4 separate regions of the Homo sapiens genome follow, and regions 1, 2 and 4 are each reported to be linked to region 3. The links are microRNA targets in miRTarBase. Many come from high-throughput screens and were not tested one by one. Region 3 holds a microRNA gene; each other region holds the end of a gene's coding sequence.
What was found. The annotated mature microRNA hsa-miR-16-1-3p reads CCAGUAUUAACUGUGCUGCUGA and lies in region 3 at 1,143-1,164, shown strand. An mRNA with a match to its seed (bases 2 to 7 or 8) in the 3' UTR can be bound and repressed. Matches are read on the target gene's strand: a 7mer-m8 pairs with bases 2 to 8, a 7mer-A1 pairs with bases 2 to 7 and ends in A, and an 8mer does both.

Region 1 (3,000 bases), not on the chromosome of region 3:
TGCATCTTTATCCTGTCAGTATACATTAGGAGCCCTTTAATCCATGGATGTGTGCATGCATGGTAATGGCATATCAAAAGTCCTTATGAAATTGTAGATGAAAAAAGCTGTTGGGCACACATCTTGTCTTTTCTTTCAAGATCAGAAAGCAATTATTTGTTTGAATTATTTTATATTCATATAAAGTTTTCACAGATGTCATAAAAATTAAAATTACACACTAAAGTTTTAAGAGCACCAGCACATACACATGGAGACGGTTTTTGCTATTTAAAAAAGATTTCCAAATTATCTATATGTATGAATATATACCCACATATATATATATACACACACTCAGACACACACACACATACACACACACCCAAGAAAGCCAAGCTTCTTTTTTTTGTCTTGCAACAAACACATAAAGCCCTGAAATTAGTGATTAATAAAGGAACAGCTACTGCAACTATAAACATAGTATCATTTTGGAAGCTGCAACAGAAAAAATATGCCACTTGCAATCATGAGGAATGGCTATGTTTACCTTCTTGGTTATCTTACTGATTCATAAGGTAATTATAAGAGATAGGACACACACTCTCACACATGCACACACACACACTATATATATATGTATACACACACACATACATATATGTATATATATACACACACATATATATACACACGCATATATATATACACACACACATATATATATATGTATATCTATATATATCTATATATCTATATATATATATGCAGGCAGGCCAAGAAGACAATGTGTTTCTGAATATCACTTTGTTAATCGGGAGCTCCTACAAAAGTTCCGACATCACCCATTATCAGTTACTTTATTCCTTTAACAAATTTTGACTTAGATCTTAGCAAAAGCAAACACAGGGGCATATCATTTGTAGTTGCAGACTGTGAACTCATCTGAAACCAATGCAAGCATTTTTACAGTGTGGCTTTCATAGCCAAGATTACCATGATGTTTACAGTTCTACTAGATTATCTGATAGTAGTCTGAATGATGAAAGAACAGGATACTGATGCATACAAGATATAACTATTAACCTTATTCATTATTTTTTAAATACTTGTAGCGAAAACTATTTGAATTAAGCTCATAGAATCCTGAAAAGCAAGACAACCGATGGCAAATAACAACTGCCCCAGACACAATACTAGAAAACTAAGGAACTTATTTTTGAATGCACAATTGGTAACAAATCTGAAGATAATACGCTAAATTCACAAGAATAGCACAGAATTGACTGTTCTTTTGTATTTTTTTCTTTTCTGTTTGTTTTAAATTTTTTTTGTTTTTAAGTTACACCTGATCACAAAGTCCAGAATATTTCTGTTCACACCAGCTTGTTTCAGTTTAGTATATTTCTTTCTGTCTACATTTATACTTACTGATAAATTCACTGTGATCAGGAAAACAAGTCAGGCATATTAAATACATATTAAGGAGTACATATTTTCCTATTTAGTATACAAAGTACTTCATAAATATGAATTATGTTACAAAAATAGCTTTGGGTGCGCTCACACAGTAAGCACTCTGCTTATTTTGGACAACCTTGAAGGATTGTGGGTGTTTCACGTAACTGAGAACAAACTCTAGTGTTAGTTTAATTTGAGCCATGTTTAATTCTGATAAACGTCACATATTTCTTCAGATCATCACAAATGCTATCTAACTCACGTTGATTTTTTCTTTTAGATTTTTATGTATAGACAGGTAATGCTTAAAGTGTTCAAATTTATTTTATAGTTATGTAATGTATGTTATATTTTAAACAAGTATTTGCACAAATTAACATTATAAATCCAGCGGTTTCAAGATGCAGGCCATAAAGGTTACCAATTTACAAATACTATCGAGTGTTCTCTCTTTGCATGCTTTTTTTTTTTTTTTTTTTTTTTTTTTTTTTTTTTTACTTTTCAGATAATCTTTACACGGAGTTGTTACAATGCCACAAATCAAAAGGATTATTCCAGTTCCACCAACTTAATCTACGTGCAAGATAAAGGACCCAGCTGGTACAGGTGTACCAGTTTTCTTGAGTTTGCTTTACAAAGCACAAAGAGACGAAGGTTTTGCATTGGGGTACAAAACAGATTTGCCTCTTGAGGTTAAATTCAGTATTATGTGTATAAAGCATCCCTTTGGCAATAGAGTTTGCAGTATCCCCACAGGACTCCACAGTATAGGTTTTATGTAGTAAAATCTATTAAACAAATTCTCTTCTACTTGACACATCTTTGCAGCTACAGTTAATGAGACACCCTTGGAAACACCTGCCTCCATGCCTATTGATAATATAGTATTTGGAAGTTAGAAGTCAACAAAAGGCACTTTCATCATTAAATAAATGTCCTCTGTATGAAGTAAGATTACATGACCTAGATCTTGTTCAAAGCTGTTTGCTCCTCAAGGACCTGTAGGTAGTCAGGGGAACTCTGCAGTTTCGCCTTCAGTTCAAAATACTCACTCTTCCTTTGTTCCACAACAATTTTACTGTGGTTGCCACCTATCAGTGACTTCTTACTTTTTTTGTCTGGTTGTTTTTCTGGATAGCGGATCTCAAAGCCACTGACACCTATGCTATTATACTCCTTTTTGCTTTCAAGAAAATTCTGAATAAACACATTGGAATCCCTGCTAGGGAATAATTCATCCAGCTCATCAATTGTGCTCAGTCTCTTCCTGGTATCTACATGTAATAAATCTTTCTCCTTGTCGGCCACATTTCTCATAACAACTTTCTGTCCTGGAGGATCTGAAAACATGAACCCAGTTTCTGACTCTTTCAAGCCACAAGTGTGGCTCTTGCTCATCTGTTCTATAGTTTGTGGAATGAAAGCTTCTGTGCTCAGTCCATCTTTTTTATTGGTTTTGTGGTCATGCTTCCTTAGCTGCAGCTGCATGGAGCCACAGTCAGGATTCCCCAGGCCTTCGTGCTTCACTGTGGGTTTCTTGTTGCGTCGCAGGACAAAAAC
Region 2 (3,246 bases), not on the chromosome of region 3:
TTCTTATGCCTCATTCTTGTAACAGTAGCCACCACATTGAACATCAAATATCATTTCATTTTTTCCCCTTTTTCTCCTACCTGACCCTAAGTAATACCCAGTCTTCCCAATACCCCATTCTCTGTAAAATCTTACAAGGATTGAGTTGAATATTATCAACTACTATATTCCTTCACTCAGAAAAAAAAATTTGTAGTCATATGTTTCATCATAAGAATAATATATACTAAATTGCCTGTGTATTTATTTTTATTTGCAGATTCCCACTGGATTCTTCTCTCTGCTGACAGTGAGGGCTTTATCCCGTTAACCTTCACAGCCACACAGGAAATAATCATAAGAGATGGCAGCCTGTCCAGGTCAGATGTCTTCAGAGACTCTTTTTCTCACAGTCCAGGTGCTGTTTCTTCTCTTAAAGTCTTTACAGGCCTTGCTGCCCCCAGTTTAGATACCACTGGCTGTTGTAACCATGTAGATGGCATGGCTTGATATCTGCAGTGTCCTTGCTGTGTAGCTCTTCAGATGAGACCATTACAAACAAGGCCTGCTTGACACTGGACACTCGCCAATGAGACTCCCACTGCACTCAGGCGAAGCGCTTGCCATGGTCGGCTCTCCTGGTTTCCCCCTGTTTCCCCTGAGCTGAGGCTCGCTGCTGTGTAGCAGAGCTCAGTCTTTATTAGATGGCTCCGAAAGTGGTGTTTATGTATTCATGACTGTGTGGTTTTGACTAAGGGCAGAATTCTCAGAACAAAACAATATTATGGTGCCATATGGATGGTGTTTTATGGTTTCTCTGAGGCTTTGTGTCCCTTGTCCAAAGCTGCATTGAAGCTGTCTTAGGAGCACTTAAAAGATACCTTGGCATTGTTATAGGTCTTTTTCTTGGCTTCAAGAGGAGGTTGAGGAGTCTGCTGGGGGGCATGTGCTCTAGCATATTAACCTCAAACCAGCAAGAATTAGCAGAGCTCCAAGGAGGACCAGAGACCCACTGGCTTCTGCTCTCAGGAACAGGAAGTGGCTCTGATGTTGCCTGGACCTCCCAGAATTTAAACCAAACCCTCTTGCTTCCTTAACAAATTCTGGCTGACGAAGGTCCAGGTACTCTTAAAAACTGGCCCTGGGAAAATTTTGAATGAAATTTCAAGGGAATTTGTCCCCTCTGGGTTCCACTTGAGGTTGTGCCGATGCTGCTACCACACTGTCGAGCCCAGGTAAGTCCTACTGCAGGATTTTGTGCTGTGGCCACTCATGAGTGTCCCTGAAATAACTTTTTTTTTTTTTAAATCCAGTTTTGGGATCACGCAACTTTCCTATTTTTCTCCCAGTAGTCAGCTCCCTTAGTTAACTTGTCACTTTAATTTGATATTTTTATTTTCTCTCCTTTTAAGTCTTAGAGACCAGCAGAGAATCTGTGAGAGAAAGTATTTCAGGAAGTTAGAAATTCAACCGAATCTGAGGTAGTCCTAAAAAGTGCCATTTTGTTTCACTTATGGGCTAAAGTACCAGCTTAGTCAGGTAAGAGCCCTGACCCACTTCAGATGGTAACACCACTTCTCACTGCCTTCAGATGGAATCACAGATTTCAGTCACGGCGCATAACAAATTGATCAGTGAGTGGCTAGGCATCTGCAGATAAATTGTTTCAGCCATAGAAGCTCCATTAGCACATATGCTTCCTTTTCCCCCCTTCCTTTAAAATCATCTGGAAAGAAACTATTTTGTGCCCTTGGGGACTCCTGTCTGTCTGTTACAGTTTACCAAGATGGAGCTGGGTTAGGAAAGAAGTGAGGGCCCATTTTGTGGTTCAAGTGCACTAGACAGCTGCTGGGGTAGGAAGCACAGGCAATGTCTGTAATCAGCTGTGGGAGAGCAGTGACTGAGAACAGTCTGAGGCCTGGCTCCACTTGGAAGTATCTGGGGTGCGATGAAATCACAATTATCTTGAAGCCTAAAGAGGGAACTACAAGACTGTTAACTAAGATCAATGTGGGCACCTAAAAGGGTATGTTAAAATCACCATTTCTCAGGTCAAAATACTGTGAATAAGTCTTCAATAAAATCACTAATGGTTATTGTGGCTGTTTTGGATGTTTTGGTAGTATTTTCTTTGCGATTATTGCTGCTATAGAGGAACCGGCAATAATCTTGCAGTTATATATGCATATGTTGTCTGTATTCCTTCTTCTGGTGGACAGTCCAGAATATAAATGGTTCTTTACAACAAATCTGATTCCATGACAACTCTCATACAAGAGATGTTTCCTTGACCTCTGCTATTATTACAGTCACTGGAACAATAGAAAATAATCTCATATTTGCTGGCTTTGGAGGCAGGGAGAAAAGAGCTAAATTCTTCAAAGGATTGTTTAATGTTCTACAGTCATGCACCACCTCGCCTGGCTAATGCTTGTATTTTTAGTAGAGACGGGGTTTCACCATGTTGGCCAGGATAGTCTCGAACTCCTGCCGGCCTCCTCTTTCTTTATACCTTGTGTGTTGGACAAACATTTTAATTTTAAGGAAGCCACACATTTACCTATCTTCCTTTTTATGGAAGTTTTGTCTTCATATTTATGTCTTTAATCAGTATTCTGCTGGATAATTTTATTTGTTTGGGGGGTTTTTGTTGTTGTTGTTGTTGTTTTTTGAGACGGAGTCTTACTCTGTCGCCCAGGCTGGAGTGCATTGGCACAATCTTGGCTCACTGCAACCTCCAACTCCCGGGTTCAAACCATTCTCCTGTCTCAGCCTCCTGGGTAGCTCGGATTACAGGTGCCCGCCACCACACCCATCTAATTTTTGTATTTTTAGTAGAGATGGGGTTTCACCATATTGGCCAGGCTGGTCTCAAACTCCTGATCTCAAGTGATCTGCCTACCTCAGCCTCCCAAGTGCTGGGATTACAGGCATGAGCCACTGAGCCCAGCCTCTGCTGGATAATTGAGGGGTCCCTCTGCAGAGTTCCTGACTTCATGCTCTGCATTGCTCTGTGTGGTAAATTTCATTTGCCAGGTTTTTTGTGTTCTTTTTTTGAGACAGAGTCTCTCTCTGTCGCCCAGGCTGGAGTGCAGTGGTGTGATCTTGGCTCACTGCAACCTCTGCCGCCTGGGTTCAGGCGATTCTCCTGCCTCAGCCTCCTGAGTAGCTGGGATTACAGGCGCCTGCCACTGTGCCTGGCTAATTTTTGTAGTTTTAGTAGAGATGGGGTTTCACCATCTTGGCCATGCTGGTCTTGAACTCCTG
Region 3 (3,210 bases):
AGAAAAGGAATTTCATTTCTACATCTGAGAAAGTGGAAACTAGGAGTTTCTTCCTTACCTGGTAAATGGGCCAGAAACAGGGAATAGGAAGATTAAGAGCTATGGGATTTGTTTTATTTCTCATCTCAGGGTACCAAATTAACTCATCATCCCAAGGATTCATATTTTAGAATTACTTAAGGATTCATATTTTAGAATTACTGTATCAAATGATATCCAACTCTAAGAGAACTTCTAGTATGAAGATCAATGTTGAAAGTAAAATATTTAGATTATTAATAACAAATTATTTAAGGGAGAATTAGTTTGTTTAGAGCTTTTTTTCTTAACTATATTTGGAATTAAAATGTCTTAATTAGATATTTAATAAAATTAACATTTAGAATTAAAGTATTTTTCTTTAAAAGTATATTTGCATTTTGCTAGCTTAAGTTTATTGAAACTGAGCTCTTGTATGTCATTTCATGTTTTTCCCTTGATGTGAAGTCTTACCTATTTGATGAAGATGTCTTTTGAAAGGTGTACTGCAAGGAACAAAATGTTTGTAAATTCTCCTTTTACCAAGGTAAAGATCAAATTTTATAAATTTACTTGTTTGTTTATACAAGGAAAAATAACTTCATATATTGAATATATTCAAAAGTTTAAGCATTTAGTTGTATTGCCCTGTTAAGTTGGCATAGCAAATAAATGCTTTTCTTTTCCTCATTTTATTCTTTGTGTTTCCTAACCTATAGCACTGTGCTGGGCACAGAATGGACTTCAGTTAAGTTTTTGATGTAGAAATGTTTTATTATTCTACTTAAAATCTCCTTAAAAATAATTATGCATATTACATCAATGTTATAATGTTTAAACATAGATTTTTTTACATGCATTCTTTTTTTCCTGAAAGAAAATATTTTTTATATTCTTTAGGCGCGAATGTGTGTTTAAAAAAAATAAAACCTTGGAGTAAAGTAGCAGCACATAATGGTTTGTGGATTTTGAAAAGGTGCAGGCCATATTGTGCTGCCTCAAAAATACAAGGATCTGATCTTCTGAAGAAAATATATTTCTTTTTATTCATAGCTCTTATGATAGCAATGTCAGCAGTGCCTTAGCAGCACGTAAATATTGGCGTTAAGATTCTAAAATTATCTCCAGTATTAACTGTGCTGCTGAAGTAAGGTTGACCATACTCTACAGTTGTGTTTTAATGTATATTAATGTTACTAATGTGTTTTCAGTTTTATTGATAGTCTTTTCAGTATTATTGATAATCTTGTTATTTTTAGTATGATTCTGTAAAAATGAATTAATACTAATTTTTCAGATGTATCATCTCTTAAAATACTGTAATTGCAATTTAATAATTGTATTGAATGCCATCAAGTTTTTTTAAAAAGCTTATGCAGCATTAGAGGAATTTATTTTAATGCACATTTATATTCAACATAGACATTAATTCAGATTTTTACTTGGGATAAAACAAATTCTAGTTTTCCCTTTGTTTTGAAATTACTTTTAAAATATGTCTTTACAGATAAATATAAAATATATTAAGCATTTTGAACAGAGCTTAGAAGACAATATTTAGTACTGTTTCTGAATATTTCTTTATATCTGAAGGGGAAAAGCCATCAAAATATGTGAATTAAATACCTAAAATTCTGGTTGTCAAAACGTCACACTTAACCATAACTTTAAAGGTAGAAAAACCCTTACAAGTGACCAACCCACTCATTGGATAGCTAAGGAAACACAAAACTCAAATAATTTGCTACACATCACAGATTGGGGTCTTAGTCTTATGTCTTCTAACTTTATAATGGTATACTATTTTTTTCATGTTTTTATTAAAATGTTTTCTTAAATCCTTAGCCAAAGATTTTTGTTTGATAAGTCAAAAATAAGGTCTTGTTTACTTTGTTTACTTTTTTGTATTCAAGATTTAACTCAGAGTAAGACCAAATTATCATTGTAGTTTTATTGATATAAAATGTCAACATAATTTAATTTTTTTTTTTACTTTTTTGTATTTTTAAAATTTTTTATTAAAAATAAAAGTAGACAGCCAGGTGCGGTGGCTCACGCACTTTGGGAAGCCGAGGCAGGCGGATCACCAGGTCAGGAGATCAAGACCATCCTGGCTAACACGGTGAAACCCCATCTCTATTAAAAATACAAAAAAAATAGCCAGGCGTGGTGGCGGGCGCCTGTAGTCCCAGCTACTCGGGAGGCTGAGGCAGGAGAATGGCATGAACCTGGGAGGCGGAGCTTCCAGTGAGCTGAGATCGCACCACTGCACTCCAGCCTGGGTGACAGAGGGAGACTCTGTCTCAACAAAAAAAAAAAAAGAAAAGAAAAGTAGAGCTGGGCACAGTGGCTCAAGCCTGTAATCCCAGCACTTTGGGAGGCCGAGGAGGGTGGATGACGTGAGGTCAGGAGTTCGAGACCAACCTGACCGACATGGTGAAACCCCATCTCTACTAAAAATACAAAAAATTAGCCGGGCGTGGTGGCACATGCCTGTAGTCCCAGCTACTCGGGAGACTAAAGCAGGAGAATTGTTTGAACCGGGGAGGCGGAGGTTGTAATGAGCCCAGATCGCGCCATTGCAATCCAGCCTGGACAACAAGAGTGAAACTCCATCTCAAAAAAATAAATTAAAATGTAAAAATTAAAACTAAATAAATAAATAAAAATAGAGACAGGGTCTCACTATGCTGCCCAGGCTGGTTTCAAACTCCTGGGCTCAAGCAGTCTTGCCTTAGCCTTCCACTGTGCTGGGATTATAGGCATGAGCCACCACCCCTGGCCTAATTTAATTAAAATCTGAACAAAAGGCCGGGCACGGTGGTGGCTTATGCCTGTAATCTCAGGCCAAGGCAGGTGGATCATGTGAGGTCAGGAGTTCGAGACCAGCCTGGGCAATGTGGTGAAACCCTGTCTCTACTAAAAATAAAAAATTAGCCAGGTGTGGTGGCGGGCGTCTGTAATCCCAGCTACTTGGGAGGCTGGGGCAGGAGAATCACTTGAACCCGGGAGAATCACTTGAATTCCAGTCTGGGCAACAGAGCGAGACTCCATCTTAACGGCAACAACAACAAAAATCTGAACAGAAATGCTCTATTTACGTTCTTTTCCTTATCTGTAGTGTTTTAAAGTCATTAAACTTAAAAATGATGTTCAGGAGAAGATGAGTGTATTTGCATAGTCTGTCATAAC
Region 4 (3,222 bases), not on the chromosome of region 3:
AAAAGATATATCACTGTGCAAGTCAAACAACATAAAGCCCATAGGCTGACAGCTTCCTCTCTCTGGTCCATAGGGTCACAATCTTGAGCCCCTTCCCATTAGCTCTTGCAATAACCAGATACTCCCCTCAGAGCACACAGTACAGTGTGTGCAACATAATCATCTGACAGATGGTCATTTTATGTTTTCTAAGAACAGGTGTTATCATGAGTATTGACATTTTCGTATGACGTTCTACTTCTCTGGTACTCCGAAATTTCCCCCATAAATAACTTTTTCATTTGGTAACAAAATGTGGCTTTGGGCTGCATCCTTTTCAGTCATAGAGATACTCTTCTATTCTTTCTATGGCAACCTCTTGTTTGATTACAGCAACCTCTTATTTGATTACAATTGTTAAATATTTATTTTTGTGCCTAAAGAAGTTAGAAAAAACAGGTTAAAAAAAACCCAGTGTTTTCATTAAGCTCAATCTATAAGAACCCTTATTTCTTATTCTTTAAGGGCTCAAAAGTAACTTTCCTTTTTAGCAAAGGATAGAATAACATTACAAATTCACAGTGACAGTGATTGTGAAAACTACCACCAGAACACTTTATAAATGTAGCCAAATCAGAATGATCTCTCTGTCTTTTATGTCCAAATTCTTTTGTGGTATCCATGTTTGACTGAAATGAAATAAGTCACTGGGACTTATACATTCAAAAATAAAACTTAAAAATGTTTAATCCCTGAGAATACTGGGAACAAATTAATGTGAAACCACCAATTCTTAGGCTTATTACATTCACAAACATTAGTCTAGTACAAATTATTTCTTAAGAAGATAGTTTTTTTTTTAATGTTAAGTAGCAGAGTTTATCTAATTGTACTTCTAGGAAAATAATAAAGATCATTCTTTTGAAAAATTACCAAATATGCATAAAATTTTTAATTTTAGCAGGAACCAAAAAGAGCAAAAAAGGTAAGAAAAGAACAACAATAATAAATCTTTATTGAGATTTTTTAACAAAATAATTTTTGAAAACAAAAGCTCCCACATGTAAACAAGAACGTAAATAAGTTAGATGGCATTATTATGTACATTCAAGAATCAAAACATGTTCTGGTAAACATTCCATAATCCGGTAAAATGTTTTCACCCATCACTGTTAAGAGAAACTGTGTATTTAATACTATCAATAACAAAACCTAATCTTTGAACATTATAAAATGGTTTACGGAATATAAACTATACAGTTTAGTTTTTCATTCCTCCTAGCAATCCGTGTCACATGTATACTAGTCCTAAGATGTATTTTGTCAGTATTAGCCCAAAATGTCCACCATCCCAAATTAACCAGGTTACACATATCTCCTCCAGTTTTTATGGTAGGATGTGTTAGAACCCATATATTACAACATCATTTTTCAAAACTAACCTAATCCTAAATTCTATTCTAACTAGTCTGGCAATCCTTCATTTTATCTCCCTGTCTACACATTCATTAGATACCAAGGCAATTTCACCTTAAAAAATACTGCTAATACACATTTAGATAGTAATTTCTGGTAAAACTGTAGTTTATTTATCAAAAAATGTGAATTTTTATTTTAGAAATGTAGGTCAAGCATTGTCATAGTTGTAGTACTTAATTGAGAATAATGGCTTCAATTTGGAAGATTCAATATACACATTAAACAAAATTAAACAGTTTAAATTATAATTCATATAATTATAATTCTCATTTTTAGATGGCCAAAATATATTGTTTTCTTACTATAAAGTGTTATTTATTCATCGTCTATTTTTACTAATTATATTCAATTCACAGTAGTGACATCAAAGGGACAAGTCATCATAGGTCTGAGACCAGGAAAACCTGGTCTGTTTTAACAGAGGCGTGTCTAAAATAAGAGTACATATTTCAATTAGGCCCACAGAGATAGAAAAGAGCCAGGATAATCTTTGTATTGAGGCCTTGATTTCAGTTTTAAATGTAATTCTTTTCTGCCAGCTGAAATAATTTAAAGATGTGCACAATAGGTCTGTGCTATTTAAGGCAGGTGTCAAGCACATTTTGAAATTTACCAACTAGAATGTTCTCCTAATGGAAAAAGAAAAAAGAAAAGTTATGACAGTTTTTGTTTAAGACAGATGTTTAAATAGCACTCTTCTTTTTGACCATTTAAAAATAATTTGGCAGCTGTAACCACCTATGGTCATAACACATAATCACTTACAAAAGACAAGCAACAGATACAGAATTAACGATATACTTTTAATATTTTTACAACCCTCTTTAAGTTGGTGCCTAATGGCATTTAACAAGATTTTTATATTCAGTGAAAAAGATTTAGAACATAAACTGACATGAAGTAAGGAATATAATTTCTCTGTGCCATGCAAAAGAGAAGTCAACTTTTTACACATCATCACTCCTAAACAGTTCTAATTAAAATCCAAACTGTTCCCATTTTTGCATCATTGTCATTCTTTGGCAAAAGATTCTAAATAGCCATGGGTTAGGAAACAACTGTTCACTCATGGTCTTCATTTTTTTTTTTTTTGCAAAATACATGTGTTTTGTAAAAGAAATCTGCACTGTGCTTGGTTTATACTACATAATTATAAGTAAGCAAAATAGTATGACTTCTTTTGACTAATCTACTCCTAAAGCCTTGAGTTGCCGTTCAATCTCTTCATCTGAGATTGTAGCCTTTGAAGTAGAGGCAGATGGTAAGCTTCGAGCAGCTGATGGAGCTTTGGCCATCTATATTAAACAATGAAAAAGACAAACGTGCATTAGGAAACATTTGGACTAGGACATACAGGATGTGCTGTAAAGAGGTCTGTTTAATTTACTTTTGAAACAGAAATAAAAACCATGCACCTCCTAGTAAAAACAAAACAATTAAGTGACAAACGTGGTAGGCAGAAACTATTTCCAACTAAGAAAAGATGATGTTCATACCTTTCCAGAAATTTCAATTCCAATTTCATCAAGAACTTGATTCACAATATCCTGGCTTTCTTCTTCGTCATCAGAACCGTCAAAGATGTCATCAAGTGTATCATTGACTAGGGGATATGGGAGAAGGAGCAAAGCAGTTACTTTCAAACAAACTTCAGGTTAGACTTACATATTTACAGTCTAGCCCAACTATTTTGTATATTACAGAAGGCAAACTCAGTGAACAAACTAAAAAAATCCTTCAAAATGTCAGTGAAGTAAATTGATA

Region 1: miRTarBase lists SLITRK4 as a target of hsa-miR-16-1-3p. Seed matches in the 3' UTR shown: 8mer at 2,140-2,147 and 7mer-A1 at 16-22.
Region 2: miRTarBase lists WDCP as a target of hsa-miR-16-1-3p. Seed matches in the 3' UTR shown: 7mer-m8 at 2,036-2,042.
Region 4: the mRNA of CHMP2B is a reported target of hsa-miR-16-1-3p. Seed matches in the 3' UTR shown: 8mer at 1,303-1,310.

The regions. Positions count from the first base shown.
Region 1 is chrX:143,626,192-143,629,191 of GRCh38, forward strand. SLITRK4 (SLIT and NTRK like family member 4) reads right to left here. Exons shown (of 2, transcript NM_001184749.3): 2 at 1-3,000. The coding sequence ends at 2,404. Among named protein-coding and RNA genes, the nearest start is that of SLITRK4, 8.4 kb to the right of the region's middle.
Region 2 is chr2:24,028,176-24,031,421 of GRCh38, reverse strand. WDCP (WD repeat and coiled coil containing) reads left to right here. Exons shown (of 4, transcript NM_025203.3): 4 at 260-2,075. The coding sequence ends at 489. Among named protein-coding and RNA genes, the nearest start is that of WDCP, 18 kb to the left of the region's middle.
Region 3 is chr13:50,046,939-50,050,148 of GRCh38, reverse strand. It overlaps MIR16-1 (microRNA 16-1), which reads left to right and starts at 1,088; the gene lies at 1,088-1,176. It overlaps DLEU2 (deleted in lymphocytic leukemia 2), which reads left to right. Exons shown (of 14, transcript NR_152566.1): 6 at 487-565. It overlaps MIR15A (microRNA 15a), which reads left to right and starts at 948; the gene lies at 948-1,030.
Region 4 is chr3:87,253,243-87,256,464 of GRCh38, reverse strand. It overlaps CHMP2B (charged multivesicular body protein 2B), which reads right to left. Exons shown (of 6, transcript NM_014043.4): 5 at 2,955-3,061; 6 at 909-2,753. The coding sequence ends at 2,643. Among named protein-coding and RNA genes, the nearest start is that of POU1F1, 22 kb to the left of the region's middle.